Linked DNA regions of Homo sapiens: regions 1, 3 and 4 are each linked to region 2. Evidence: fine-mapped expression QTL. A gene starts in region 2. Each other region holds a variant in brackets. All regions are shown on one strand. Distances are between the middles of the regions. Region 1 overlaps PDCD1LG2 (programmed cell death 1 ligand 2). Region 2 holds the start of PDCD1LG2 (programmed cell death 1 ligand 2). Region 3 overlaps CD274 (CD274 molecule). Region 4 overlaps CD274 (CD274 molecule).

What was found.
Region 1: its variant is fine-mapped to the expression of PDCD1LG2 in whole blood (TOPMed, PIP 0.96).
Region 3: its variant is fine-mapped to the expression of PDCD1LG2 in whole blood (TOPMed, PIP above 0.99).
Region 4: its variant is fine-mapped to the expression of PDCD1LG2 in whole blood (TOPMed, PIP above 0.99).

The regions. Positions count from the first base shown.
Region 1 is chr9:5,553,503-5,561,502 of GRCh38, reverse strand. It overlaps PDCD1LG2 (programmed cell death 1 ligand 2), which reads right to left. Exons shown (of 7, transcript NM_025239.4): 5 at 3,751-3,885. The region is part of intron 1 of INCR1 (interferon stimulated noncoding RNA 1); the gene reads left to right. Among named protein-coding and RNA genes, the nearest start is that of PDCD1LG2, 47 kb to the right of the region's middle. The variant A/G (reference allele first, on the strand shown) is at 3,795.
Region 2 is chr9:5,506,621-5,514,765 of GRCh38, reverse strand. PDCD1LG2 (programmed cell death 1 ligand 2) reads right to left here and starts at 4,235. Exons shown (of 7, transcript NM_025239.4): 1 at 3,963-4,235. The region is part of intron 2 of INCR1 (interferon stimulated noncoding RNA 1); the gene reads left to right. RefSeq lists enhancers at 4,137-4,186, 4,347-4,406, 4,467-4,546, 4,488-5,687.
Region 3 is chr9:5,466,907-5,475,029 of GRCh38, reverse strand. It overlaps CD274 (CD274 molecule), which reads right to left. Exons shown (of 7, transcript NM_014143.4): 7 at 4,476-7,190. The coding sequence ends at 7,168. The region is part of intron 2 of INCR1 (interferon stimulated noncoding RNA 1); the gene reads left to right. Among named protein-coding and RNA genes, the nearest start is that of CD274, 20 kb to the right of the region's middle. The variant A/C (reference allele first, on the strand shown) is at 3,205.
Region 4 is chr9:5,454,752-5,462,883 of GRCh38, reverse strand. It overlaps CD274 (CD274 molecule), which reads right to left. Exons shown (of 7, transcript NM_014143.4): 2 at 6,719-6,784; 3 at 5,464-5,805; 4 at 1-50. The coding sequence starts at 6,770. It overlaps INCR1 (interferon stimulated noncoding RNA 1), which reads left to right. Exons shown (of 3, transcript XR_007061406.1): 3 at 3,697-5,453. Among named protein-coding and RNA genes, the nearest start is that of CD274, 8.3 kb to the right of the region's middle. RefSeq lists enhancers at 3,365-3,424, 3,341-3,635 and a silencer at 3,341-3,635. The variant G/A (reference allele first, on the strand shown) is at 3,465.

The DNA of each region.
Region 1 (8,000 bases), 47 kb before region 2:
TTTTGCAACAAATAGGCCACAAGTTTTGGAGTCAAACAGACCTGTATTCAAATCCCAGCTGTATGACTTTGGGAAGTCATATAACTTTTCTGAGCCTCACTTTCTTAACTCCAGCATAAAGACACTTCTCCTTGCCACAAGCAATTTTTGTGAAATTAAATGAGAAGTTTGTAAAGGGTCTAGCACAGTGGTTTTCAGTAGAACTTTCTGCAATGATGGAAATGTTGTATATCTGTACTGTCCAATACAGGAGCAATTATCTGTACATGGCTATTGAGCACTTACAGTGTGTGAATACTTAAGATGTGACTGATGAATTTTTATTTAACTTAAAAAGAGCCACAGATGGCTATTATATTGGACAGAGCAGATCTAGCATACTCACCTGCATATAGTAGGTTCAATGTTTAAAATTTCATTGAACATTTATTATATGCCAGGTAATTTTTTAGACACTGGGCATATATTGGTGAATCAGAGAAACACAGTTACTGTATTCTTGAAACGTAAAGACAAGCAGATGAAGCAGAATTTAACATTATTTTGCAACAGAAGTTGCCAGCTTCTTCTCTAGAGCCCAGCAGGTCACCCTCGAGCCCCAAACTGTTGAATGGTTCCTCTTAGGGGAAAATGGTAAGCAGGACCTTTTATGGACCAATAATGGCTGCCCTCCCAATACACTTTAGTACACAGAGCTAGTCACTGAGGTATAGGTGGGTAAATCTGTTCAGGAGCTAAGAAGCCATCTGGAAGGAAAGGGACCAAGCCTGCTGCTTCTTTACTTAACTTTGCAATGGACTAAGAAATTCAGGATACCAATGGCCCTAAGAGGAACTGAAGAGAAGGAAGTTAGGACTGGCGTCCCAGGCTCAACATGAGGGCCTAGAAGGGAAGAGGCTGGCTGTGTGCAGCTGTGGCTAAGGCAGGGACCTCCTCCTACCTCATCAACCCATAGGGGTCCTGCTTTGGGACCAATGACAGAGCATGTGTTGGGGAACCATAAGAACTGTAATCTTGTAGCACTGTGGTCTGTGTGGGGATCGGAACCAGCAAGGTTACCTTTGCACAGTGGATGGAGACATCTGGAAGGACCAGAGATTCTGCATGGCCGGAGTAGACAGCAACTGCTCAAAACCAGGGCCCTCTGGAGGACTAACCTAGCTGCCTAGCACTGGCCCTGTGGGCTAAGTAAGCTTTCTGGCAGTTTGTGGGAGGTGGAGAAGTACATGCTATAAGAGGGAGACACTGAACTTCTTGCTAAGATGGGCATGTGGGTACTTGAGGAATCAATTGGAAAATTAAAAGGGATGCAATTTAATTGGTAGTCCAAGCTATTAAAACAGATCCTAGACATGTGATTGTGTGCTGAGTATACTGAAAGAAGAAGTAGGTGCTATGGAAACATATAATAAGGGGATTTAATGTAATGGGTGTGGTGCGTGGAGGTAGAATTAGGAAAGACTTGATGAAGTATAAGCTTAGCTGAGATTTAAAAGATGACTCCAACTCAGGTGGACAACAAGAAAAAATATTTTAAGAAGAGACAATATTGTATGAGAAAACTCGGAATTGAAAGACTGCCATGCCTCTGAGGACTAGAAAATCCTGTGTGGTTAGAGCTTTAGACAATGAAGGTGATGGTGATGCAGTTAAAGCTGGAGACATGAGTCAAACCATCCTGGGCTCGTTGGAACTTCATCCAGTGAGCAATAAGAAGCCATGGAGAAGGTCTGGACAGAGGACACATGGTAGATTTATGATTTTTAAAAGCCTATTATAGCAAAAAGTGAGAACAGACCAAGTTGGAGGTAGCAGGAGTGAATACAGGGAAACCAGTTAGGAAGATTTCTCTGTAGTCCAAGTTGAACCACACTAGCGGCAGTGAAGTTCGGCCAATAAGCTGTAAAATGTTCCTTCTCTTGCTGCTTCCCCTTTTACAGATAGAAAGACCATCTCAAAGAAGATAGGCAATTTGTACAAGGTCAGAAAGCCAACAAATGGCAGCACAAGGTCCCAGCCTAGCCCTCTGACCCTGGTTTAAAGCTCTGTCTGCATCACCAGCAGTTCTCAACCCTTTTCCATGGCACACAAGTTTGTGTGCATGGCAGACACATGTAAGAAAGCAGATCTGAATGCAAGTGAGTTGGAGACAAGGGTTATATAGGCAACCATGATTTCTCTCTGGTTCATTAAAAATATAAAAGAAATTGTTTGCACATTTATTCACTTAATTCTTATTTGTAAGAAAGGTCTCCTAATCACAGTTAGAACTTGAGCTTTACCTCCCAGCTCGGAGCTACTGATATCCTCACTCACTCTTAAGATTGGGGTGAAGGATGAGGAGAGGATTTATTTCCACTCTATCTTTGAGTGTGACTCCATTCCATTCTCCCAAAGACAGCTGGAACGGAACACTCAGCTGCTCATTTCTGAAGTTATTAAGGAGTCCTCAGGCCCCAGGCCTTGAACCCTGAGGTATGGGTGTGAGAGGTAAAAGAAGAATGGCAGAAGATAAGACAACTGAGGTGCACCTGACACAACTCTCTGAAGTGGTTCTATTTAAAAGTCGAAGTTCTGTTGGACATACCTCCTCCTTTACCATGAAGCTCCCTTCCCTCCCACATTTATTTTTCTTTCTATCTTTCTTCTTCTCCATCTCCTGTTTTCTCTTTCTCCCTCACTCCCCTGGCCATCTTCTTCCCTCCCTCTGTCTTTTTCTTTTGGCAACAATTCCTTGCATTCTACAGTTAGAAATATTGTGGTCAGCACCCAAGTGAATACATACACACATAGGGCAATGGACAAATAGAACATGACAATATTTTATGGCAGATGAAAATATAGAAGTTATGAGTATAAATGTAAGATAACAACCACTTAAAATTCCCCTAGTCCTCAGATAGTGCTGCTGCAAACTCCTACTGAATTATTTCCACATGTCATTTCTCTTTCTATAGATGAGGCCATGTATAGATCTTTGGAGAAGTTCATTGAGTGCAGACAAGGGAGCCGTTTAGGAAAGCACCAGCTAGGCCTGCATACATTCTGGGGGTTTTGTGGGCAGGCTCCACCCAGGAAACCAAAGACAGACACATGAACAATGAAGCAATGAAATCAGGGCTGAAAGGCTTCAGCATGCTCTGTCCCAGCTGGTACAACAGAACAGGAGTGTGTTGGTAAGAATACAACAGGCTAAGGAGAAACTCGAAGGGAGCTGCTGAAAGACGTTAATGCACCACCAACCAGCTGTTTCCTTATCCCCAAATGGCCTCACAAACCTTTCTCCTTTCCTTACCCAACCGTGAGGTTGAGATTCCTGGGAGAGGGGGTGGGTTTAACCCAGGTCATATCCAGACTGGGGAAAAGAGGGGTGAAAATGGAAGGAATCCTCAGAAAGGATCCTGGCAACCTCCCACCAGCAAAATCGGAGCACGTAGCTCTCTGCATTGCCAAAATAACATCACTCTCATGAGGCTGATGAAAGCTCTTGGCTCAAAGAATAAGACAAACTCTTTCAGACATAAGAACAAAACATTCCCTTTAAAAAACTCAGTGTAAGAAGTTCAGCTCACTGACGATGAGAGCCATTTTCTTCTGGGGAAAAATAATCATCAAGACAAGCTCAAAGTGGTTCATAAGCTCTGAGTGGGTTTAGCATGAAAGCAGCAAGCCATAGGCCTGCAGTGCAAAGCAGTGGCTCATGCTGCAGACACCCAGTGCATTGGGTTACCATGAATAAAACTCACTTACCTTTTGAAGAATACAGCTTTTGACAGAGTTGTTTTCTTAGGGCT[A/G]TCACTGTGGCTATGAAAATGAAAGCAATGATGCAGAAGGGGATGAAAATGTGAAGCAGCCAAGTTGGATGGGTCCTGGGTTCCATCTGACCTGGGCAAAGGAAAAGCACCAGAATCCTGTTACATGGCAACTAAGAGGTAGACCAACAGGCTGGCCACATGAGTGGGTGACAGCCAACACGGCTAGCTCTGTGGAGCATTTACTCCACACCAGGCCCTATTCTAAGTGCTCTGCACCTATCAGCTCATCCACTCCTCGCAACCACTCTGTGAAGTTGGCTCTGCTATGATCCCCATTTCACTGGTGAAGAAAGGGAGGCACAGAGAGACTAGGAAGCTTTCCCTAAGTTACATAGTAAGTGACCCAGCTAAGATACAGTCTGGTTCCAGATTCTGTGCTTTTTACCACTCTCTCATGTTATTTTTTTCCATCCATCCATCAATCCATCCATCTATCATCTAATCATCTTTCTTTCTTTTTTCTCTTTTTCCTCCCTATCCCCCTTCTCCTCCTCATCCTCTCTCTCTTCCCAGTGGCAAAGTCTCTCAGCCCAAAAATGTCTTTCCCCCACTGACAAGTACTCACAGTGCTTAGAATCTATACCATTAGTTGTTAAATTTCAAGGATTAACAGGATCCTTTTGGAAGAAATAGAATATCCTAGGTAGTGTTAATATACTAAACCTAGTCACTCATGCCTTAGTGTGAATTATTACAATTGGCCCTTTGCCTTGTTTCGGTTTTTCAACGTCCTAGCACTGAGGAAAGGGTGAGTTTAGTAGAGGGTGGATCAGAAGAATAATTCTGGAGGCTGGGGAAAGCCTTGTAAAGTCCTCTGGTGTGTACAGATTAGAACAAGGGCTCCAGACTGACAAAAGGCAGGGCTAGAGGAGTGTTCACCTACAGGGAAATGAAAGGGTACTCAAGTTAATTTGTGCCCTATTCAAAAGCTTGAATTTTGCCTCTGGAGTCATTCACATGGAATAAACATGACAGGCTGGTACAGGAAAAACTGGACGAAACTGCTCAGCGGGAAGGGCTCAGTCCTCCCAACTTCCCAGCCCTCAAACCCCACTACCTCCAGCACAGTGCTATCTGAGAACCACGGATTGTTTTACTGGAGAAGAGATTAGACATTATTTAGTCTGAGCCCCTCATTTTAGAGTTGAGGAAGTAAGTCTCAGAGTTGCTAAATAATCTATGTGAGGTCATCACTGCTAAGTAAAAGTCAATGCCAGGATTGCAAACCCAGATCTATCTGACCCAAAGCTCAGCCCCCACAGATATTTGTCTCCATCCAAAAGAGTGTGATTAACATTAACGAAGAAAAGATAAGGAGCCTTGCTCATCCAAACATTGGATAACCCATATTGATTATAATCTGCTTCTTAATTTCTAGTAAGTGCTTAGTAAGCACTTTGTGAGTCAAGGAGACCTGGGCCTCTCACTGTCCCCACAACAGGAGAGGTCCCTACCTCAGTGTCTTTATGCAAACCCTTGTCCTGTGCAGGTTCCCTCATAGTCTCTTCCACGTACAGAAGCCCTACTCATCCCTGAAGACTCCAAAGTTGAACATCCAGTAGGAAATCAGTCTGCTTAGACTGTATTTGGAGGGCAAAGGCCTTATCTAAACTACCTCTGAGTCCTCTCTAGATAGAGCCAAGCAACAGCTACATGAAAAGTGCCAATATGGAATTGTTGCACTGAATTGACTGTCTCTTTTCTAGTCCACCTAGCCTGATCCTCCTAGTCATTTGTTACCTTGTGGTATACTGCTGGTTAATCCATTCTTTCTTTCAACTTTAGTATTAGGGAATTAGCTGGACACATGGCTTCTCAGAGACTATGTTTCCAAGCCTCCCCTATAGTTAAGTGGGCCCAGCCATGTAATCTAAGTTCAGGCTAAGAGAGTGAGTTTTCAAGGTCTTGGCCTTAAAACATTGAATGTGTTTTCCACCACTCGTTTACTTTCTGAAGGTTGAAACATGGGTTTGGCACTGACTGAGCTTTGACAATTTTATAGGGACAACATCCTGGAGAATGGCAGAGCAACAGATGAAAATAATCTGGATCACTGAATGACTCTATGGAACATAGCTGCTTAGCTGCTCTGAACCACCTGAGTGTTACATGGAACGAAAGATACTTCTGTCTCGCTTCTCACTGTATTTCGAGGTCTCTTCATTATGGTAGCTTAGCCTGTATCCTCATACATATTCCTCTAAGTTGTTTTAAAATTCTTGCATACTCTTTTGTCGTTTCTTTAATTTAATTAATTAATTTATTTATTTGAGAAGGAGTTTCCCTCTTGTTGCCCAGGCTGGAGTGCAGTGGCATGATCTTGGCTCACTGCAACCTCCGCCTCCTGGGTTCAAGTGATTCTCCTGCCTCGGCCTCTTGAGTAGCTGGGATTACAGGCACCTGCCACCATGCCTGGCTAATTTTTTGTATTTTTAGTAGAGACGGGGTTTCACCATGTTAGCCAGGCTGATTTTTGAACTCCTGGCCTCAAGCAATCCACCCATCTCAGCCTCCCAAAGTGCTAGGATTACAGGCATGAGCCACCGCACCTGGCCAATAATGGCATACTCTTAGCAATGATATAATGATGCAATGGCAAAAAATATTTGTCTTATCCTTGCCACAACTTCATGAACTCACAAGTAAGGCATGCAACTTGCTAGATATACCATTTTTTTTTACTGTTTGCACACTTTCTGAGTACTAAGCACTTTATAAGCACATTTCATTTAATCCTCACTATAACCCTATAAACTGTCTACCACTACTCACCCTCATGCTACACATGAGAGACTGAGTGCTAGAGTGGCTAAGTAGGATATTTAGGTTCTCAAAGCTAATAGAGAGAGAGTTTGAAATTTAAGCCTGTCTGACATCAGAGCCCATGCTCTCAACCACTGCCTGGAATCACCTCCAGGTCTCCTAGGAAGGATTCTCTTTTCTGCCAGCCCTACAAGGGTCCTTTTATATTTATTTTTTGTGCTGTAGTCCCATTCCATTTCCTAATGAAAATACAACAACTGGCTGAGCAGAAGAAACCCTATTTCAAAAGGAAAATGATCTGTTGCTCCCTAACTTGTGCTTGAAATTTGGAATGTTCAGTCATCCATTCTAGAGTCAGTGGAGTACCCTCCACCCACCATACTCTTCGTTTCCGTGTTTGTTTTATACATTGACTTCCGGAGAAGCTTGTGGGTCACAGCAGTCCACAGCTCAATTTATGAGAATGAGTAGAAAGGGAACAGTCATAAGACAACTTAAAAATGCCCTTGAGAAATAGAAGCCAGGAACTCAGAGGCAGATGTGTGACTTTGGTTATTTTGTTGCTGGTATTTGTGCCACAAGCTAGAATATCATTTGGCTGCTCTGACCTGGCTGTCCACACAGTCTGGTAGCTGGCATGATGGGACTGCGATTATCTAAGATGGAATCTCCAACCCAATCAACCCAACATTTGTTGAGCACTTATTATGAACACAGGACTCTGCTTTTGCCTTAGTGTGGAATAAAGAAGACTTGTGTGAACAATGAAAATACATGGAAAATAAAATAGCAATTAAAAAGGCAAGCATAGTTACAAGGCAAACAAATGGTCCAGGTAGTAGGTCTCAAAATGTGGGATGAGGGAAAGACCCCCTTGTGCCCTGGAGTGACTGAGCTGCCCCAGAGAGAGGGTGGGCTTGGAGCTAGTAGAGAGGGAAATAATGATATTTATGTGGAAAAACCTGAGCAAAGAAGGCATGGAGGTAGAAAAGGTGCAGCCAAGTTCAGAGAGCATGTGGTGAGGAAGGGATGGTTAATGAAGCAGAGGATCCATGTCAGTAAACAGTAGGACGAATACAAAGTTGGGAAGGATGGGTAAAACCAGGTTGAGAATTTCTGGCTGCACAAAGATTTCTCCATCTCCCTGATGGCTGTATTTATGAGTGATACCCTAGGAGATCCTGAGCTCTGATGAAGACCCCACAGGTCTCTCCCATGGTTGTTGACTATTTAGTAAGCCATGTTGGCTTCCATGAAGAGAGTGGAGTGGCCATTTTACTCCACTGTTAACTTCTCACAGCGTAAAGGCTTCCAGAGCAATGGTCAGTCTGCCCTTTCACATCTCTACCATGCAGAATAGAACACTGACATAATCAGTGGTGTAAAGTTATTTCTCAATTCATCTCATACAGGCCCCTGTTT
Region 2 (8,145 bases):
GACTAGGTCTCACTCATTGCCTAGCCTGGAGTGTAGTGGCTATTCACAGGTGTGATCATAGAGCACTGCAGCCTCGAATTCCTGGCCTCAAGCAAACTCTGGCTTCAAGTGATCCTCCTGCCCCAGCCTCCCAAGTAGCTGGGACTATAGTTGTGGGCTACCTTGCCCAGCTTATTCTGCTTATTTCTACATAAGAAGTATCAATTTACTCAATTGCATTAGGAAGTTGTATCTTTCCAGAGAAATCAAGGAAACATCTGTAAATTCTGAGGATAAGTTCGTAAACAGAAAATGAGGAAATTTTTTTCAAGCAAAATTTGCAAGAGGATCAGAAATGATGGTAGGTTCTAGCAGTTTCACTTCTTGGTTGCTATAGGCCTAGTTTCTTGCCATTTCTACTGTCTGTGGAGATCTATTTCCAAACTGATAGATGAAATACAAATAATTGTGGTGCTGAAGCTTTAATTATCTCTTTCTTTTATTCAAAACATTTACTTGGTATTTACTATGTGCCAAGCTCTAGTATACAAGGGTAAATAAGACACAGCCAGTGCTTTTATGGAATTCTCTGGTCTGTGCAATAAGTGAGGCATAGACATTCTATGGAAGTATCTCAAGAATCCTAGCAAATCATTCCTTTGTGTAACAATAACCAGCCTAAAGGATCATGTTTGTAAAATACTTCATTCTTTGTTAAATACTGCCAGTCTTATCCCATTTGCCTCTTCCCTCTCCCAGTGTCTAGTAGAGCCCGGCTATCCATGAAGACCTAGATAAATGCATACCCAATTGATCTGAAATACCTGAACTAACCACTGTTTTGAAGCCAAGTGTCTAAGACACTAATTGTAATTAGCAATGTCTGAACATAATCTGAATTTGAATGCCTTTGGGCAAGTTATGCAGAGTTTGCCCCAGGTCCTACCATTTTCCATTGTATTAGACCTAGCTGGATTCACTTATTTTTGTTGCCTGACAAACCCAATAGGTATTTGAGTTTTGGGGGGATCTTACAGCCAGTACTCTGCTGTCATAGGTATATGAGTAATTATTTGATCTCTAAACCATCTGTGGCATAGATAGACTACCAGTAGCCTTAAGATGCTATTCTACTCAATTTAATAGAGCATTTAAGTTCAAATTAAATCTCAATTTTTTAAGCAATAAACAGTGAGTTCCCACTTTTTATAAGCCTTTATATTAGAAAGTTGTGAGAATTCATAGAATAATTTATCATTGGAGAATTCATAGAGGGTTTCCTCTAAGAAAGGGCCCTTGCCCTTAAAGACATTGTACCATAATTGGAAGGTTAAAACTCTCACACATGAAAAATAGTAAAACTGATGTAAAACAAGTGATAAAATTGCAAAAGCCCTAGAAGTTGACTAAAGGAAGGGAGACTTCCCAGAGGGGTAGGATTTGAACTGGGCCTTTGAAGCACTGGTAGGATTTGGGGTTGAAGCTATTCTAAAGGGCAGTGCATAGCTGACTCAGAAGCAGTCTCAGAGGTGCAAATGCACAGGCGTGTTGAGGGGACAATGAACAGAGTAACTTGGCTGGACACTTAGGTTGAGAATGTCAAGAGCTTAATGCCAGGCAGAGCTGCCAATCGGGAAATAGTGGCAGTCACTCAAAAACTAAGTGACAATACCAAAGGAGTATCTGAAAAAGATTACATCTAATTTTTTTTTTGAGTATAGAATTGAGGGTGGGTGGAATTGGTAGACAGCCTCTCAATTAGGGGGTCACTGTATTCATCTAGATGTTTGGTAACAAGGCCCTAACTTCAGGTCAGAAAAAGGAAGCAAGGAAGAGGAAGAAGAAACATATAAGACAATTGACAAAACAATTGACTGCTGATCAGCCATGCACAAGAGACAAAGAGAAAAGCAACAAGATTGACTGTGGTTTTAAGACCAGACTGGCAAGACAATATTGGAGCCATGGGGGAGGAAGGGTGGCAGGGAGAAATAGAAGATGGGGAGCTGATTTTAGAGGGAAGACAGTAAGTTTGGTTTTAGTCTGGGCAAGGCATAAGCATTCCAAAAAATTGTAGGTCCAGAGTTTGGGACAAAATTTAGGGCTAAAGATAAGGAAGTTATTTCTAATATGGAAATGTTAGTTAATATTGAGGAATGAATGAACCATCTGATGGGGAGAATATAAAAGAAAGATTATAAAGAAAAGATCTGAACTCAGGAACGTCCCAAAATTTGGAGAGCAGGAACAGAGGACTAGTGAAAAAGGCAGAGACAAGGTGGTCAGAAGAGCATCAGAAGCTCCCCCAGGGCAGTACTTCTGAGGCAATGGAGGAAAATCCCTCAAAGCAGGGGCAGTTCATCATAGGGAGCCGTGAAGACTAAGAACTGGAAGTCAGCCCACAGGTGTGTTAGAGACAGCTGGAAGGCATCAGAGGTGACTGGGGCTAGATAACCTTTCAGATGCTCTTGTCTGTCCTGGAATTCTGTGAGTTGATTTGAAGGTTATCGAGCCCAGCTACAGTGGAGCAGGGTGTGGCATGAGGAGGTGATACTACAGTTGCCCCTTTACAGAGTAACCCACGTATGCAACAATTAAGACATATGACATATTTGGACATTAGCATGTGGAATTAAAATGACACACAACAATCTACTGGTTGCTGTCCAATGTATTGTAAAGCAAATAAACTCTGAAGCATGACCCATAATACTGTCTCTACCATCTCCTTTTTCAAATCAACCTCAAACTTCCCCCTGTCCATTACACGAACATTTCATTTCTGGTGATTCTCCTGACATTTCATCAAATAAATCCATTCAACAATTCGGCAAGCACCCACTAAGCACCTATGTGTATTGCCAGGTACTGCACTAGGAACTTGGGACTCAGAGAACCTTAAAGGTGTGCTTCTTGCCTGTGAGGAGCTCCAGTTCAATGGAAAAGCTCACCAACAGGAGAAATCTGGGGAGAAGACACCCTGAAGCAGCAGACAACAAAGAGCCTGATGATGGGGAGACCTCAAATAATGAAGGCAAATAGATCAGGTTCCAGTGGCAAGAGCAGCAGGACCAGGATTGTTCATCCACTCACAGAATCTTAGGCTTGGAAAGGAGCTTGGAGGACATCCAGGCCAACTCCGTATTTGACCCTGATACAACTGTCTCATTACTGCTCACACTGAATATTTTTACTCTGCATTTTGTCAATTTAGGTCTCTCATTCCCTGCCCCTCAGAGCCATAGTATTTTTGGGTTAAAAGTCCTGATTAGTTGGTAATCTCACTCAGGCTTAGCCTCTCCACCTCCATCCCCTCCACATGAACCCATTGCCTTTGCTCTTCTACTCAGTGCATCCAGGCGGTGAGCAATCAATAGCAATTATTTCAGTTCTGTTTAATTTTTCTACCTTTTCGCTGATCATTTTATATGGAAAGAATAAGCCTTTCCATAGTCCCCAAATCATGCTTTTGTTCAATAATGATTACCTCTATAAGTTATTAAGATAATAGTTTTGGGTTTTTTGTTTTTGTTCCCCCTCCACCAACAGCTGCCTCTTAGGCATAGCTTGTAAACAAAGGCCAGCCTGGAGGGATCACCGTCTGCTAAATGGATAATCACAAACAGATGTCAGTCATAGGAAAACAGATTTTTAAGTTCTTCACCATTAAGCCTCCGAAAACTCTAAGCTGAGAGACAATCTTAAGAATAGTTATATTATTTTACAGTGCACATATTTGGTGCAGAAAATATCTCACCTTATAAAACTGAGCAACAAGAACAATATGCATAGGAACAAGTGAGAGAAATCTGGGGCAGGAGGACATTAGCTTATTTGTGCCCCTCAGCACAATTTCTGAGGCAGAATGTCTCTTGCCTCAAATGGTGTGGAGAGAAGGTAGGCCACCCTTCCCCCACCCTGGCAGCCTCATCATGGTCCACAACATAATAGTATGAGAGTATCTCAACCCACTCGTTACTCACATGAGGACTTGCCACAGCTCCACAAGTAAAGATGCAAAAGTAAACAACAAAAAACAGTTGCTGTTTGTGTTAGATTTCCTTATAGTAGCCACCAAAATGAACAGCCAAAAGGAAAAACAAAACAATCAACATGCAGTAGCTCCAACCCAGGATTCTTTCTAGCTGGGACATATGAGGATGGGTAACAAAAAAGCACTCAAAATTTGGCGTTAAGATATATTCAAGAGAAGAAAAGTTGTTCATTCAGCTTAAGGTTTGCCGTAACATGAGAGTGAGTCAAACCAGAACTAGTTCTGAGGAACTGACGAAAGCCTGGCTTATTTGGAAAGTTTTGGTTTTGCTTTTAGCAGTTTGTCTGTGAATGGGATTGCATTCCTGATTTGGCTCTTGGCTTAGCTATGGTTGGTGTTTAGGAATACTAGTGATTTTTGTATGTTCATGTGGGATCCTGAAACTTTCTGAAGTTTATCAGCTTAAGGAGCTTTTGGGCTGAGACTGTGGGATTTTCTAGATATAAAATTATGTCATCTGCAAACATGGGTAGTTTGACTTCCTCTCTTCCTTCTTGGATGCCTTTTCTTTCTTTCTCTTGCCTGATTGCTCTGGCCAGGACTTCCAATAGTATGGTGAATAGGAGTGGTGAGAGAAGGCAGCCTTGTCTTGTGCCGGTTTTCAAGGGGCATCCTTCCAGCTTTTGCCTATTCAGTGTGATGTTGGCTGTGGGTTCATCATAGATGGCTCTTATTATTTTGAGGTATGTTCCTTCAATACCTGGTTTGTTGAGAGTCTTTTTTTTAACATACCTTGAGAGTTTTTAATACCCTTTTATTCCCTCTCTTTCCCCTATTCTTATATGTGCTCCAGCTTCCCCATTGTCCCTGGAGCACATTTAGGAATAGGGGAAAGGGATGGAATGAAGAATACCAGCATGTCTTAGTGCTGTGCCAGGAAATTGACTCATTTCCTAGGGCTTCTGTAACACATGACCTCAAGTCCTTGGCATTCCCTGACTTATAGTTGTATCACTCCAATCTCTGCCTCCATCTTCAAATGACATTCTTTTCTGTGTGTATCTCTACATTCCTCTCCTCTTATGAGGATACCATCCGTTTGATTAGTGCCCACCCTAATGCAGTATGACCTCATTTAGACTACATCTGCGTAGACCCTACTTCCAAATATAGTCACATTCTGAGGTCCTCAGTAGACATGAATTTGGGGGGAACATTATTCAACTAACCTCACTTCATTTCATAGTGCCTCATTTCATTCTCAGTGCAATGTGTGGTTTAGAGTTAGACCCATTTTACACATGAGAAAACAGGACCAAGATCAAACAATGTTTCCTTAGTTGCATGGCTGAATTTGAACTCGGACCTCAGTGGCCCCACTATACCTTCAGGCTTGTGATTGGTGAGATTAAAACCACATGGCAAGAAAAGGCAAACTTGAATATAGGCCTGAATGATCAATCCTTCTCCTGCTGCCTCCCGCCCTTTTCCTTGTGCTTATAGGGGTAGGACCAGCAGAGATGTGGGGCTGAACACTCAGACAGAGGATGTTTTTAAGAAAACATCTCTCCTTGCCTGTCCTCTAAGCCTTCCCTGCCTCCTTGTTTCTTCTACAAAAGCAAGGATCTCCTTTCCTCCTCCTTGTCCTGCATCCTCTTTTCGTCCCATCGCTTGAACAAGAAGTACTTTAAGAAGTACTACGAAGCTGTGTAGTACCTACAGATGGGAGTGGCTGCCTAGACGGCAAGAGTTGGGACTGTGTCTGTGGGACCCGTGCTTCCTCTGGGGATCTGCTTCTACACCCACGGCTCCAGGCATGTGGTTTCCTTAGGAGTTGCCATTCTCTTACCTGACCCTCTGTTCCTGGCCACAGTGACTGGCTGAGGAATGGACATATGTCCCCTGTGTGGCTTTGAGTTTTAGTATCTATGGAAAACACACCTCACCTACCAGAGTTCCTGTCCTTCTTTAGGAGTGAGGTGCACTCACCACAGTTTCCTTTCCTCTCTCTTGGGTAGCCTTTCTCCAGGCTTGGCCTGCCTCTCCTCTTCACACTTTCCTTTGGGCAGTTCAGCTCTGCTTTGCCACAGTTTAGGGCATCCTGAAGCAAAGGAAGGCCCAGGTATATTCACAGCAAGGCCAAATGAAACTCAAGCTAGTGTCTCAGCACATTAGCCTGCCTCATAAATCTATATGTCTAGAGAAAATAATGGAGGGTTACAAACCAAAGTGTTAATAAAGGCATTTCTGGGTGGAGGTAACTTTTTTTAGTTTTTTGTTAAACTTTTGTTTTACATAGGTAACTTTTTTAGTTTTTTGTTAAACTTTTATTTTACATAGGTAAACTCGTGTCATGGAGGTTTGTCATACAGATTATTTTGTCCCCTAGATACTAAGCCTAGAACCCAGTCATTTTTTTTTTTTTTTTTTTTTTTTTTTTTTTTTTTTTTGCTCATCTCCCTCCTCCCTGGGGCCTCCACCCTCAGCTAGGCTCCAGTTTGTGTTGTTCCCCTCTTTGTGTCCATGTGTTCTTATCACTTAGCTCCCACTTATATGTGAACACATGTGGTATTTGGTTTTCTGTTCCTGCATTAATTTGCTAAGCATAATGACTTCCAGCTCCATCCATGTTCCCGCAAAGGACATGCTCTTTTTTACGGCTCTATAGTATTCCTTGGTGTATATGTACCACATTTTCTTTATCCAGTCTGTCGTTGATGGGCATTTAGGTTGATTCCATGTCTTTGCTATTGTGAATAGTGCTATGATGAACATGTGTGTGCATGTGTCTTTGTGATAGAATGATTTACATTTCTTTGGGTATATACCCAGTAATGGGATTGCTGGATTGAATGGTAGTTCTGTTTTTAGCTCTTTGAGGAATTGCCACACTGCTTTCCATAATGGTTGAACTAATTTACACTCCACCAATAGTGTATAAGCATTCCCTTTTCTCCATAACCTTGTCAGCATGTTGTTTATTAACTTTTTTTTTTTGAGATGGAGTCTCACTCTGTCTTCCAGGCTGGAGTACAGTGGTGAGATCTCAGCTCACTGCAAGCTCCACCTCCTGGGTTCATGCCATTCTCCTGCCTCAGCCTCCTGAGTAGCTGGGACTACAGGCGCCCGCCACCACGCCCGGCTAATTTTTTTGTATTTTTAGCAGAGACGGGGTTTCACCATGTTAGCCTGGATGGTCTGGATCTCCTGACCTTGTGATCTACCTGCCTCAGCCTTCCAAAGTGCTGGGATTACAGGTGTGAGCCACCGCACCCGGCCAACTTATTAACTTTTTAATAATAGCCATTCTGACTGGTGTGAGAGGATCTCTCATTGTGATTTGGATTTGCATTTCTTTAATGATAAGTAATATTGAGCTTTTTTATATGCTTGTTGGCCATGTGTATGTCTTCTTTTGAAAAACGCCTGTTCATGTCCTTTGCCCACTTTTTAATTGGGTTGTTTGTTTTCTTCTTGTAAATTTGTTTAAGTTCCTTATAGATACTGGATATTAGACCTTTGTCAGATGCATAGTTTGCAAAACTTTTCTCCCATTCTGTAGGTTGTGTGTTTACTTTGTTGATAGTTTCTGTTGCTGTGTAGAAGCTCTTTAGTTTAATTAGATCCCATTTGTCAATTTTTGCTTTTGTTGCAATTGCTTTTGGTGTCTTTGTCATGAAATCTTCACTCACTTCTATGTCCAGAATGGTATTGCCTATATTGTCTTCCAGGGTTTTTTATAGTTTTAGGTTTTACATTTAAGTTGTTAATCCATCTTAAGTTGATTTCTGTATCTGGTGTAAGGAAGGAGTCTAGTTTCCATCTTCTGTATATGGCTAGCCAGTTATCCCAGCCCCATTTATTGAGTAGGAAGTCCTTTCTCCATTGCTTGTTTTTGTCAGCTTTGTCAAAGATCAGATAATTGTAGGTGTGCAGCCTTATTTCTGGGTTCTCTATTCTGTTCCATTGGTCTATGTGTCTGTTTTTGTACCAGAACCATGGTGTTTTGGTTACTGTACCCTTGTAGTATAGTTTGAAGTCTGGTAGGATGATGCCTCTGGCTTTGTTCTTTTTGCTTTGATTGCCTTGGCTATTTGGGCTCTTTGTTGGTTCCATATAAATTTTAAAATATTTTTTTCTAGTTCAGTGAAGAATATCACTGGTAGTTTGGT
Region 3 (8,123 bases), 40 kb after region 2:
ACCAACGAGAACAAAGACACAACATACCAGAATCTCTGGGACACATTTAAAGCAGTGTGGAGAGGGAAATTTAGAGCACTAAATGCCCACAAGAGAAACCAGGAAAGATCTAAAATTGACACCTTAACCTCACAATTAAAAGAACTAGAGAAGCAAGAGCAAACACATTCAAAAGCTAGCAGAAGGCAAGAAATAACTAAGATCAGAGCAGAACTGGAGGAGATAGAGCCATGAAAAACCCTTCAAAAAATCAATGAATCCAGGAGCTGGTTTTTTGAAAAGATCAACAAAATTGATAGACCGCTAGCAAGACTAATAAAGAAGAAAAGAGAGAAAAATCAAATAGATGCAATAAAAAATGATAAAGGGGATATCACTACTGATCCCACAGAAATACAAACTACTATCAGAGAATAATATAAATACCTCTACGTAAATAAACTAGAAAATCTAGAAGAAATGGATAAATTCCTGGACACATACACCCTCCCAAGACTAAACCAGGAAGAATTTGAATCTCTGAATAGACCAATAACATGCTCTGAAATTGAGGCAATAATTAATAGCCTACCAACCAAAAAAAGTCCAGGACAAGATGGATTCACAGCTGAATTCTACCAGAGGTACAAAGAGGAGCTGGTACCATTCCTTCTGAAACTATGCTAATCAATAGAAAAAGAGGGAATCCTCCCTGACTCATTTTATAAGGCCAGCATCATCCTGATACCAAAGCCTGGCAGAGACACAACAAAAAAAGAGAATTTTAGACCAATATCCCTGATGAACGTCGATGCAAAAATCCTCAGTAAAATACTGGCAAACTGAATCCAGCAGCACATCAAAAAGCTTATCCACCACCATGAAGTTGGCTTCATCCCTGGGATGCAAGGCTGGTTCAACGTAACGCAAATCAATAAACGTAATCCATCATATAAACAGAACCAAAGACAAAAACTATATGTTTATCTCAATAGATGCAGAAAAGGCCTTCGACAAAATTCAACAGCGCTTCATGCTAAAAACTCTCAATAAACTAGGTATTGATGGGACGTATCTCAAAATAATAAGAGCTAGTTATGACAAATCCACAGCCAATATCATACTGAATGGGCAAAAACTGGAAGAATTCCCTTGGAAAACTGGCACAAGACAGGGATGTCCTCTCTCACCACTCCTATTCAACACAGTGTTGGAAGTTCTGGCCAGGGCAGTCAGACAAGAGAAAGAAATAAAGGGTATTCAGTTAGGAAAAGAGGAAGTCAAATTGTCCCTGTTTGCAGATGACATGATTGTGTATTTAGAAATCCCCATCGTCTCAGCGCAAAATCTCCTTAAGCTGATAAGCAACTTCAGCAAAGTCTCAGGATACAAAATCAATGTGCAAAAATCACAAGCGTTCCTATACACCAACAACAGACAAACACAGAGCCAAATCATGAGTGAACTCCCATTCACAATTGCTTCAAAGAGAATAAAATACCTAGGAATCCATCTTATAAGGGATGTGAAGGACCTCTTCAAGGAGAACTACAAACCACTGCTCAATGAAATAAAAGAGGACACAAACCGAAGGAAGAACATTCCATGCTCATGGATAGGAAGAATCAATATCGTGAAATGGCCCTACTGCCCAAGGTAATTTATAGATTCAATGCCATCCCCATCAAGTTACCAATGACTTTCTTCACAGAATTGGAAAAAACTACTTTAAAGTTCATATGGAATCAAAAAAGAGCCTGCATTGCCAAGACAATCCTAAGCCAAAAGAAAAAAGCTGGAGGCATCACGCTACCTGACTTCAAACTATACTATAGGGCTACAGTAACCACAACAGCATGGTACTGGTACTGAAACAGAGATCTAGACCAATGGAACAGAACAGAGCCCTCAGAAATAATACCACACATCCACAACCATCTGATCTTTGACAAACCTGACAAAAACAAGAAATGGGGAAAGGATTCCCTATTTAATAAATGGTGCTGGGAAAACTGGCTAGCCATATGTAGAAAGCTGAAACTGGATCCCTTCCTTACACCTTATACAAAAATTAATTCAAGATGGATTAAAGACTTAAATGTTAGACCTAAAACCATAAATACCCTAGAAGAAAACCTAAGCAATACCATTCAGGACATAGGCATGGGCAAGGACTTCATGACTAAAACACTGGAAGCAATGGCAACAAAAGCCAAAATTGACAAATGGGATCTAATTAAACTAAAGAGCTTCTGCACAGCAAAAGAAACTACCATCAGAGTGAACAGGCAACCTACAGAATGGGAGAACATTTTTACAATCTACCCATCTGACAAAGGGCTAATATCCAGAATCTACAAAGAACTTAAACAAATCTACAAGAAAAAATCAAACAACCCCATCAAAAAGTGGGTGAAGGATATGAACAGACACTTCTCAAAAGAAGACATTTATGCAGCCAACAGACACATGAAAAAAAGCTCACCATCACTGGCCATCAGAGAAATACAAATCAAAACCACAATGAGATACCATCTCACACCAGTTAGAATGGCGATCATTAAAAAGTCAGGAAACAACAGGTGCTGGAGAGGATGTGGAGAAATAGGAACGCTTTTACACTGTTGGTGGGAGTGTAAACTAGTTCAACCATTGTGGAAGACAGTGTGGCAATTCCTCAGGGATCTAGAACTAGAAATACCATTTGACCCAGCCATCCCATTACTGGGTATATACCCAAAGGATTATAAATCATGCTGCTATAAAGACACATGCACATGTATGTTTATTGCAGCACTATTCACAATAGCAAAGACTTGGAACCAACCCAAATGTCCACCAATGATAGACTGGAGTAAGAAAATGTGGCACATATACCCCATGGAATACTATGCAGCCATAGAAAAGGATGAGTTCATGTCCTTTGTAGGGACGTGGATGAAGCTGGAAACCATTCTCAGCAAACTATTGCAAGGACAAAAAACCAAACACCGCATGTTCTCACTCATAGGTGGGAAATGAACAATGAGAACACTTGGACACAGGATGGGGAACATCACACACCGGGGCCTGTCGTGGGGTACGGGGAGGAGGGAGGGATAGTATTAGGAGATGTACCTAATGTAAATGACGAGTTAATGGGTGCAGCACACCAACATGGCACATGTATACATATGTAACAAACCTACATTTTGTGCACATGTACCCTAGAACTTAAAGTATAAT[A/C]ATAAAAAAAAGTCAATTATATGTCAATTAAAAATAAAACTTAAAAAATATATTAGGCCTACTTGTGGCAGACAGGCACACACTTGTAAAAGGGACTAGAACAAAAGTTTAATGAAAGCTTATGAACCATTTTCATATTAACTTTTCTATAATACAGACCCCTCAAGTGTCACAAAATTTCCATACCACCAAGGCAAGCCAGGAAGACTAGTTCTCCATATCCTTTCCTGATTAGGAAGGCCAGATATCTTGATGTCTAGCACACATTTTTATTGCTTTGACTGCCCAAGGGCTAGCATAAATAGTGCATCATCATTACTACTGAAAACATCCAGAGGCCAGGCACCGTGGCTCACACCTGTAATCCCAGCCCTTTGGGAGGCTGAGATGGGTGGATCACCTGAGGTCAGGAGTTCGAGATCAGCCTGGCCAACATTGTGAAACCCTGTCTCTACTAAAAGTACAAAAATTAGCCAGGAGTGGTGGCAGGTGCCTGTAATCCCAGCTACTCGAGGGGCTGAGGCAGGAGAATCAGTTGAACCTGGAGGCGGAGGTTGCAGTGAGCTGAGATAGTGCCATTGCACTCCAGCCTGGGTGACAAGAGCAAAACTCTGTCTCAAAAACAAACAAACAAAAGCATCTAGAGTCAAACACATATTCTTAGAAATAGCCATTATAATCCTTTAAGAGTATCTGATTCAAATAAGTGATAGTCTTTTAAAATGGAATTTCATGACTAAAATCTCACCGGATGACACATTAAAAGGTCTATACTTCCTTGAATGATAAGTTTTGTCATGCTTGTTTAAAACCACAGATCTATGGTCCTAACCATTGCTAGCCCTTAATCCTCAACTTGGCTTAGTTCTAGTTTCCTCGCTTTATTTTCAAAACTTGAAGACTGCAATACATCTATCTTCCTACACACTGGATTGCATACCCGTTTACAGATCTGGGAAAAGTACTTTCTTAGAGGTAAGTCCCTTTGTTTCCCTATAGTTCTATTGGGTTCCACTCCTTCTCTCCCACCCTCTCTCCCTTAGATCTTCAATGTAGATGACAGGATTTTGACTCTTCTTGGTATGGTCCTAAAGGAAGCTGCCGAATGAGAGAGAATGAAAATTTTCAATACATTCTTTTTTAAAATAAAATCTTTTGATACTTTTTTCATTGTGCAGGATTCAAAAGCATGCTGTATAAAAACATGCTGTATAAGCAATGAAAAAAGAACTAGGAACAAGGCTGCAAATATTCCAAGTAACTTTCTCCACTGGGATGTTAAACTGAACATTTTATTAAACACAAAATAAACAAGAAAATGGACATGCTGGTGTACCAAGTAACAAAATAAATAAGAATATTTTATTAAATTAATGCAGGTACAAAAAGTGACAATCAAATGCAGAATTAGGTATCATCTCTGCCTATGCCATTTACGATGAAACATGAGACAAAAGGGATAAAGTGCCTTACAAATCCAACACCACAAGGAGGAGTTAGGACTTAGGAATAGACTGAGTAGACTATGTGCCTTGCTCAGCCACAATTCTTGCCTGTAATTCACACAAAGAACACTGTCACACCAATTACTGTACAAATGCACATGTACAAACAGATAACACAAGGAGCTCTGTTGGAGACACTGTTTCTTCAGCCTTGACATGTGGCAAAGCCAAGGTACTCCTTGTCATTGACACCAGAATATGGCCAAGAGGGAAAGGAAACTCTGGGATCTCCCAGGGCATCTGAATCTCGAAACCTCCAGGAAGCCTCTTAGGAGGGCTGTGTAGTGATGACAGCTGGTGGCATTCAAGGGTTCAAGCACAACGAATGAGGCTTTTCTGGCACAGGGTAGCTAGCAGTCAAGGTACACTGCCGGAATTTCCAGAAAGAAAATGTGATTTTGCAAGTACAGCATCAAAGTGAAGTTTATACTTGACAGAAAGCAGAAAACAAAAGTTCCAGACATGATTCTGTCATACAGAGTTAATAATAAGATTGCTTTTTAGGACTAGATTGACTCAGTGCACCCTGGAGAGCCCATGGGTCTCCTTTTGAGCAAACATAAACAAATCCAAACTCTGTCCTAGAGCAAATACTTAACAAATGGTGGTTGTCTAAATGTATATGTAGGACATATTTAACATATACTGGATCATATGAAAGATAATGAAAAGCTATGGGAAAGATAACTTAGAAACAAAGAAGGCATGGATCCTCAGCCCTGGGAACTTCAAATTCATTCCATCTGCTATATAAGAAACACTAAAATAAATAAAAATAGCAAAGTACACAGCAGACATACAATGTGTTACTATTTAGGAAAAAAATTTTAAAAATACGTGCTTTTAACATACATTTCCAAATGTAGACTATCTTTAGAAGAACATATGAATGAAAGGCAGTAGCAGTTGCTTCTGGAAAGGAAACTTGAATGGCTTGGAGGATGAAGTGGAGATTTTCCAACCATCTCCCATGGGATCTTTTGAATTTTGAATCATGGAAAGGTATGAATTTAAAATTTAGTGGCATTTAAATAGAAAAGACAGAACTGTTAAACAATACCAGACACTATATAAACAAGCATTAGATTATATGGCAAAGGCAAATCAGGAATAAATATAATGCTAGAAAAGGAATTCCAGTGTTATTTTTCAGGGTTATTTTAAGTACCGACCTCTCTTTGTAAATGAAAATTACTCTGATTATTAAGATGTTTAAGTATATCCAACCGTCCCAGACCACATTGGCCTATTTCCTCCTCTTGGCAACACTGCTCGGGTTTTCCCCTCGCATCATCCTTATGCTATGACACTGGACTAAATTGTAATAATACATTTTCTTGTTAATCTCCTCATTATACTATGAGCTCCTTGAGGACAGGTACTTTGTCTTGCTCACATCTGTAGATTCAATGCCTGGCACAGCGATTGATATTGCAAGGGCACTTAATAAATGGTTTTTGAATAAAAGAATTGCTTAAAGTAAAATATAGCTGTAAATTGTATTATAAAAGGACAGTGGGTGGCAGTCTGAGGTCTGCTATTTACTGGTTTGGGCAAGTTACTTAATCTGTTTGCTTCCTCAGCTGTACGATGGGTAAAATAATAGTGGTTATCACAACAGGGTGGTTACAGCGATGAAATGAGATTATGTGTGTAGGCTACCACATAATTGTAAAGCTGATATTTAAATGGAACAGATACTGCACAGACACTTGAGGTCTGAGAATAAGATTAGGTCAACCAGAGTATTAATGGGTTAAATAAAGGTGACATCCTATGCAACCAACGGTTTGATCTTTATGCTTCCAATGTATACTTGTAGTTATAGAGGAGACCAAGCACCTTACAAATACTCCATGTTTTACTAGATGTGAGCAAATCATTAAGCAGCAAGTTTAGTTTGGCGACAAAATTGTAACATCTACTACAATATATCTTCAAAAGAAATCATTCACAACCACACTCACATGACAAGAAGACCTCACAGACTCAAAATAAATAGGAAAAACTCATACATAAATACTGTCCCGTTCCAACACTGAGACTCTCAGTCATGCAGAAAACAAATTGAGGCATTGAGTGGAGGCAAAGGGCACTTCTGCAGGAACTGACCCTCAAATTAGGGATTCTCAACCCGTCTTCCTAGGATGAGCAATGGATGATTTGCTTGGAGGCTCCTTGTTCAGAAGTATCCTTTCTCCCTGTCACAGGCGTCGATGAGCCCCTCAGGCATTTGAAAGTATCAAGGTCTCCCTCCAGGCTCCCTGTTTGACTCCATCTTTCTTCATTCTCCTCCTCTGCTTTCGCCAGGTTCCATTTTCAGTGCTTGGGCCTTTTAAGTCCCACATTGCCTGCATCCCACGGGCCCATTCCTTCCTCTTGTCACGCTCAGCCCCGATGAACCCCTAAACCACAGGTTGAGAATCCCTGCTTGAAGATCAGAAGTTCCAATGCTGGATTACGTCTCCTCCAAATGTGTATCTGGAGAGTGATAATAGTATATTAATTTCATGGGAAGTGGTCTGGGGAAAAAGTAACAAGAAATCTAATAAAAAACATAACTCATAGTTGCTGATATGATAAATGATAAATTTGAAATGAGAGAAAGCAGCAGGTTATATTTGTACCCAATTATCCTTACATGATATCCTGGAAAACCCCTCAGTCCTGAGCAAATTGGGATGGCTTGTCCCCCAGCATGACCCAAACAACATTTGCTACTTAGCTTTACAACACAGATGATGCTATGGGCCACAGAATGAAACTTGCCTGAGCTTGTCCAGGTTAATTAGACTGCTTTAAACTTGGGCTCATTGTTAAGTTTGGTTTCTAACTACATTAAAAAAATTAGAAACCTTAATATAACTTTCTTCTTAGTTCAATAACCTGGATGAGGTTTTTCTGCCCTGCTTATAAATGTAAACATTTGTAGCAAAATGGATTGAAGCAGATGGGTTAAGAGTAAGGGTCTGTGGTTAGGCTAATGGCCCCCAAGCTTGATTTTTGTGATCAGCTGTGTGTTCTTGGGCACTTTACATTATCTTCTTGACCCTCTGTTTTCTCTACTGTAAAATGAGGATAAATTCTAGTATTTCTCTCTCTCTCTCTCTCTCTCTCTTTGGTAATGGCAAGGGGTGGGGGATTAAATGAGATACCGTGCATGGTGCAATTAACATAGTATTACAATACTGACACACAATATTTTAGAATCAATTAATTATCCATCCACCTAAGTCATCCTTGTCCCCTGCTGCAAGGAGCTGCTAGGGTGCAGGGCAACAGAAGATTAGCAAATGAAGCTGACTCCTTCCCCTTCCCTGCTCCTAAACCTCCTCAGACGGTGGAGGAGTTCTTGTGTTAGCTGTGAGGCAAAGGGGAACCAGCATTCTTTAAAAGGAGAGGAGATTATGACTG
Region 4 (8,132 bases), 52 kb after region 2:
GGTGACTGGATCCACAACCAAAATTCTTTGGTTGATTTTGTTGTATGGGGCTAGGACATAAACAAAAAGAAGTCAGGGCTTTTGCTGAGCACAGAACTACGTACATAGCTTGATGCTGTCCACATTAGAAAGAGTATCAATGCAGGCTGGTTCTCAGAGGGATATGCTTAATGTTCAGATGCCTCAGCCGTGGGGAACACCTGCTAGCTCTGCCTCAATTCAATTCAAAGTTGGGACAAGTTTGGATTAATAGGAATGACTATCTTTCTATAAAAATCATGTTGGTACATTTATTGGGCTCAAACAAAATGTAAAGATTAATTTACACTAAAACCCCAGACTTCACCACTATGTAATATATCCATGTGACAACACTGCTCTTGTACCCCTTAAATTTCTACAAAAAATAATTTAAAGAGAATTATCTTTAAACCAGAAGTCTTTCTATTCAAATACAAAATATCCCTCTCCATTTGTTCAGGTTTTCATATGTTTCTCAGTAAAGTGCTTCTTCTTAAATTTATTCTTGGATATTTTATTTTTGTTGTTATAAATCTGTCTTTATAAACATGAATCTCTCCAGCTGGTATGCTTTCTTTTCTTAGACTTCAGTAAACAGAAAACCTGATTTTGAGGTGTCATTCACTTTTCTGATTTGAAGTCAATGATCAGAAATTAGATATGAAAATACATAGTATTTCATCTGTAAACAGTGATATATGTTCCTGGTGATACTTTTTAATGTTTAAATTTGTTCTTTATTTTAGAAGTTTTAAATTTACAAAAAAGTTGCAAAGATAGTATAGAGTTACTGTATACTCCTTACCCGGTTTCCTCTATTGTTAGTATCTTACATTACCATGGTACAATCGTCATAACTAAGGACGTTAGTACATTATTAATAACTAAACTGCATAATTTATTCCATTCCTCCAGTTTTTCCCTAATATCCTTTTTCTGTTCTGGGATGCTATCTAGGATACCACATTATGATATTTACATTTTAAGCTTTTAAATGCTGGCTATTTTAATAAATCATTTAAGTAATTATGCTCAAGGAAGAAAGTTTGATTCAATTTTAGATCATTGGTTTGGGACCCTTTCAGGATTAAGATACGTAGTTTGCTGACAATTCTAGTAGATTGTTTAGTGCACCTATATAGCATAAGAGCTTTATTCATGTTTATTCATTACAAGTACATTAACATGTTCTTATTTTGTTGGTATAATCTTTTTTTTACTTCTAATACTATAGTGTAACCACTAATGATCTAGAGCCTTAATTCTCCATTCCTTTACCAAGGACAGCAATAGATTTGTGAGGTAATTTCTTCACAGAGAGTTAATACAAAACGGCTAGGATCAAATGAAACTGAAATAAATAATGAGTGATGTTTTGATACTCCTATATCAATGAAACCACTACCAGTGGAAACACTGGAAATCAATAAAATTATGATTTCAAAACACAAAAATAATAGTTCTTATGTGTAGGTTGCTTTGGGGTAGCTACGGATTTTCAAATTCTCTTATCTAATTTTGACTAAACTAACCATCTTACAAAATTAAACAACTAATTAAAAAGTTTCCCACAAAGAAACTGAGGACTGAAGATAATACTAATAATTCAAGCACAACCCAGAGGAAACAGCAGAAGTGACACTTTTTATCGGCCACTGTATGAGGTGGTAAACAGTAAGTACTTAATTAGACCTCGCAGTGTTATATAAAAAAACACAAACCTCAAGATTATTGACACCATCCACCTTTGTTAATGATAAAGTTCACCCTAAGGTATATTATGCCTTGACATATTAGCTAATGATAGTGAAGCATCACAATTAGTAAAAACTGAAAATATTGTTTATTAAATTTTTATTTCAACCTCTTAAAATGTCTGTTTTTGTACAAATGTCTATTAGGTTGAACCAGATGTAACTGGTAACATTCAACCTTTTTTTGCTCTTCAAAAACGGCAGTTTCTTATGATACAACTTATATATTAACAGAAAGTAAAATTTTTATAATTACACACAAATGTGCATGCACAAACACACGAGTTCAAAATGTTTTACAGATGAGATGAGTAATCAAAATTTTTGCAGACCCAGAACACTATACTAATGTTGGACAATCAAAACCAAGAAAAGGTCATGATAGTTTTGAAGTCAACATATAACTTGATACGTACACCAGAGGTACAAATATAGGCAATAAAAAGTGGTTATTAAGGGCCCAGACTTCAGAGCTAATCTGCTTGGGTTTAGAACTAGCTTTATCATTTTCTAGGCTGGGTGAATTTGGGCAAATTACTTAATTTCTTTGGACCTCAGTTTCCTCATCCTTAAAATGGGAATAATACCACTTATCATGGAATCAAAGATTCCATCATTGAAAGACACACTCAGATTTCAGACACAACAAAATGTGAAAAATACTCATCTTACATGATGAAGCACTTACCCCCTAGAGTCATTTCCAGGAGGAAATGAACTAATTTAGACAGAGTGTTCAGTACAGGGCCTAACACACAGAATAAGCAAGTGCTAATTGTAGTAGTACTCGATAGTAGCAGTAGCAGAGCTGCTCCTCTTCCTCCTTTTACTACTGCTGCTCCAGTGTACCCTTTAGAAGCTGCTAACAGTTCCTGATGAACAGTCTGGAAATAAATTTTCACATATCCAAATCTGTTCATGTTTCCAAAATTTTAGGCTAATCCTATTTGAGGAAATCATTCATTCATTGACTCAACAAATATTTTTTTGTGTGCTCTTTTCGTACCACCACTCTGCTGTATATCAGGCCCTGGGGATGCAACAATATTATAAAACAGGCCCAAATCTTTGTGCTTGTGGAGTTTATATTCTAGGAGGAGAGAGACAATAAACAAAACAGAAAAGTATGATATGATATGCTACACAATATACTAGATAGAGATAAATGCTACAGAGAACACTTAAACAGGGCTGGGAATTTTGGGGAGAGATGGGGTTGGTGGGGAATGACAGCAGTCGATTTGGTCCATATGATCCAAATAGCTTTATCGGGACAACTATGCAACACTTTGATCTTTCAGCTGCCTAATCTCATTGAAGGTTCTGAAAGTCTGAATGAACATTTCGTTTTCCCTGCTGTTAGGTTCAGCGATTAAAGAAAAACACTTTTAATTGAAAGTTAGTGGCCTGAGAGTCTGGCATTTAAACTCACAAACAAGAAAGGTGCAATAACACCCGAAGTGATAGTGATAATTGAGTGAATCCAAAACTAAATTCTTTCAAATTTCAGTTTTGAAATGTTTCACCTTTAAAATACCATGGTGAGTAAACTCCTGTGGGGAAGCTATGTTACCACACATTTGCTGTGATGGGAAGTGAAGTTCAACAGCATTACTGTGAAATCATTTGCATATGGAGGTGACTCAGGAGTTCTACTTCCCTGAGTTGGGAAGCTCCTGCAAGCCAGCT[G/A]CCTCATTTCCATTGGAGACACGGCCTCAGTGCAAGTGAAGCTTGGTGGTTGCCTTGTTCTAAGTGCAGAAGGTTCAGACTTTTGGTATAGCTGAACTCAATCCCAAAACCACTGTATGCAAATGACAAGATGGATTGGGAGTAGAATGCCAATTAAGTAATTTACAATACAAAATGGAATTGTCAAACAAATCAGGTCCTCAAACCTGGTTGGTCATTTGCTTTGCTCCAGGAAGAACTCCCCCTTGGAAAAACCATCAGTGCCGGAAGATTTCCTATTGTGTTGATCCATGGCAAAGGAGACTGCAGATACACAAGGGATATTATGGAGCCCAGACGACCTGAATAAAACCCTTCCCTACTACAAGGACAGCTGTCCCTTCCCTACACACTCCCTACAGGCTGATGAGAGACCTTTTTTGGAAGCAGAAACTTATACTTTATGCTGCCTTCTTCCTGACTGCCAGGATTATACTCTTCCTTTCCATCCCAGATCTAGCAATGCTGTTGATGAGGCTAAGTCATGATGATTTCTTTAATATCTTGGAACACAGTAGATGCCTGATATTTGCGGATGGACTGGAGAAAAACTGAAAGTATAAACCACAACATCTCAAGAGATGTCATGAATGGAGAAGCATATGGTAAAATATAATGAAAATTAAATCTACTTTACAAGTGGTATCTTCTTGACAATAGTGGCATTACCTGAGCCAGTATCAGGGACCAGAAATACAACATAAAACTGATACATTTCTCTTAATCCCCACATGATTTTGTTTTTGAGTTTATAGTTATCAGTGATCATTGATTAATAATTGATCAGTGATCAGTGACAAATGTATACTTTTTCTACTTGTATTGTTAGCCCTCAGATTGATGGTAGTTAGCCCAGGAATGGAAAGACCAAGGGGAGATGATTTAATTCTAGTCAAATATTAAAAGGTCATCATGTAAATGAAATAATCCCAAGACTACAACTAGAGGGGCAGATTTCAGCTTACTATTAGGGAGTAATTTCAACAGGATATGGAAGGGATATCCAAATGGCAGGGAGGCCATTGTGGGATATGACAGGGACGCCATTGCAGGAAATATAAGAACAGAAGATCCTCTGGGGGATTTTTGTTCTTTGTGGGAGTTTGGATTAGCTGCTCCTGCCTGGGATCCTTTCAGCTCTCAATTCTGTGAAACTCAACAATGAAAGCAGAGGTGTTTTCCTTTACTTAGCTAGTGCCAACACAAAACTTTGAACTCAAGTGACCTGATAACATAACTGTGGGTCAATACCGAGGAACTAACACTCCTAGTTCCTTTTCAATTCCCCAAGACAACATCAGTATAGATTTTCAAGATGAATATATGCCCAGTAAGTATGGCTTATCCTGTACTGGAAGAATAGGTTCTTTCACACTTAATGTGATTATTTTTTGTCTTCATAGGGTGACTTCAAGTCTTTTTTAATGTGAACCTTACAGTGGGGTTTGTTCTGAATATATTTATTTGCATTTGATATAGAGAGGCTCAAAAAAGGAAAACTGACGGACCTAATAAAATAAAAAAATAGTAGTTGAATAAAAAAATTTCTGGAGGGACACACAAATAATGGTTACTCTCTCTGCATGCCATGGGAGATAGTGGTGAAGGGAGGAGGGACACTTTTGCAATTCATTTGATCTCTTCCACAGTATCTGAATTATTTGCAAGTATACGTATTCCATTTGTAATAAAAAAGTAAAGACTAGAAATTCTTTTTGGAAAACTGTACATACTGTAGAACATGGCTCTGTGTTGTTTGTCTCTGGATTTCCAGTGACTATCAAATAGGTGCTCAAGAAATTGGATAATTATGTGAATGAATTCATGAATTGAATGAATGAATGAACAGACTATGCTGTTCTGTTTGAAAATAAGTATGGACTTACAAGAATGAAAAGTCTTCAACACTTGGAATATGTTTTCAATAAAGATCAGGCCTCTCATCTATAATAATTCTTACCATTGACTTTCACAGTAATTCGCTTGTAGTCGGCACCACCATAGCTGATCATGCAGCGGTACACCCCTGCATCCTGCAATTTCACATCTGTGATCTGAAGTGCAGCATTTCCCAGGGAGAGCTGGTCCTTCAACAGCCGGGCCCTCTGTCTGTAGCTACTATGCTGAACCTTCAGGTCTTCCTCTCCATGCACAAATTGAATAATGTTCTTATCCTCCATTTCCCAATAGACAATTAGTGCAGCCAGGTCTAATTGTTTTTCTACTGGGAATTTGCATTCAATTGTCATATTGCTACCATACTCTACCACATATAGGTCCTTGGGAACCGTGACAGTAAATGCTAAAAAGAAAGAAGGACAATCTTCAGAAAAGGGAAAATTCCTCGAAACATTTACAAAATTGGCACAGCGTTTATAAATCACTTTATCTGGTCGGTTATGTTATCATTATATTTAAGAACTTGCTAAACACATATTTTATCCAATGGGCTTGAAATATGTTTTGGGACACTATATCTCATGCTGAGACACAGTGTCCCAATAGCAGAATAATAAAATTAGCTAAACAAGTTGCCCCCACAATTTATAAACATATATTACTGTATAAATATTATATGGAGATGGAGTCCTTACAACCAGGGAGACTTGGTTTCATGTAGACATCCCCAGAATGTCCTTTGACAGGACACCTATTTGCTTCCTACATAGAGGGAATGGTAGATTCTAACAGTCATCTCTTTTTACTTCCCTAAACTTTTGATCAGTTTTCTGGCAAGAAGTACATTGGTATGGAGTTCAGGAAAGAGCACAGGGTGATGCCAGTACTGTGTTAGCCTGACATTTTCCATGTATCTTACAATTCTTCCTTAAAGTATCCTCATCAGGAAAGGCATGTCACAGAGCAACCAAGACTGAAAGATCAAAGGATCTTGGCCTTGTTGAAAGCAAACAAATAAATGTATACATACAGGCCATTTCCCCAGATATTTTCAGTAGTTAACCCTGGGAAATGGGTAATAGATTATTTTGTGTCTTTCAATTTGTCTATATTCTCTATATTTTTACAAAATGACACAGGTAACTTTATCATTGCGTAAAGTAGAAAGAAGACTTTGCCATTGTGTAAAGTAGAAGAAAGAATAGAATGTTCTCTCTATAAGAAAATTGCATGCATTTTAAATGATCATTTTAGTTTTAAACTCATGGTTAAAATATTTAAAATATAGAACCTAATGGAAGGATTTGGTGTCTTACCGTTCAGCAAATGCCAGTAGGTCATGAATATAAAGACAGCAAATATCCTCATCTTTCTGGAATGCCCTAATTATGGAAAACACGAAAAGAAGACTGCTTCACTTAATAATTAAACATACAATATGACAATATGGGACTTGGTGGTTCTAACTGAAATAGTCTTCTAATAACCAGTCATGATTGACTTGTAATTGTGGAAACCCAACAGGGAATTGGAAGTTCAATATCTTCATTCCATTGCCCACAGCCACATAAACTTAAGTGAAAAAAGTTACTAAAAGATGAGAAGTTTCAAATTTATTATAGTTACAGGCCGTGAAAAAAATCTGCCCACTCAAAAGAAGCCAAGAAGATAATATTGCACCAAATTCCTCTCAATTATTTCATGTTTTTTCTGCATTGTAACATACCTAGTAGAACCTGCCCTGTACAAAATTTCAGAGCAAGGAGAATCTGACTTTTACTTTTCCAACCTGTCAATGCTTTTTCCCCCTACAGCTAAATACTTTCATCTTACCCTTTAGCTATTCAAGGCTTCCACTTCACTGTCTCAGCCATGCTAGTCCTCCTTCAGGTGCCATCCTTCAAAATCTCCTCTTCTGCCCCTCTCACTTATTCTAAATTATAAATCTATTCTCTCAATAAACAGATTCTTCTACTAACAGTGGGGAGTGGGAAGGGGAGAGAGTTGGATTTGACTAATTCATACTAAGATATGAATGACTCACAGCCACTCTTCCAGAGTATCTGCCTAGATTCTATTCTTCATTTAGTCATCCTGCTTGAAATGTGACTAATTATTTCGTTTAGCAAACACTGATTGAGCACCTCTTCTGTGCTAGGCACTATTTTAAGCATGAGGAATACGGAAGTCAGAGTGAAAGAAAAGTCACTCTCCTTTTGCAGTTTATGTTGAAGTAGGGGAGTAAAAGATTTATACTCTATTTCAGCCAATCTGTGCATTTATTAATATTTTCTCCCTCTTCTGTTATACATATATTTACAAACTTTGATAAGAAAGAGGTAAGTTTTCCCTCTTAGTGCCTCTCCAATCTTTGTATACAGACATGAACTCACAAATGATCAACTAATCGATGCCACGTATATATAAGACAGGAGATTAATGTTCCTAATATATAAATAGCTCCTAACAATCAATAAGACAACTATACAAACTACACATAACCCATGAGGAAAAAAAGTGAAAGGTCATAACATATAGTTCAGAGAATAAGAAATACAGGTGACATGTAAACATATGAAAGATGTTCAATCTCACAATAAAAAATATAAGATATGAAATACCATTTTCACTTATGAGCTTGACCACAATTGTAAATATTTCTAATATTTAGTGTTTGTGAAGATATGAACAAATAGGCTTTCTTACCCACTAATGGGAGGATTTTTTTCT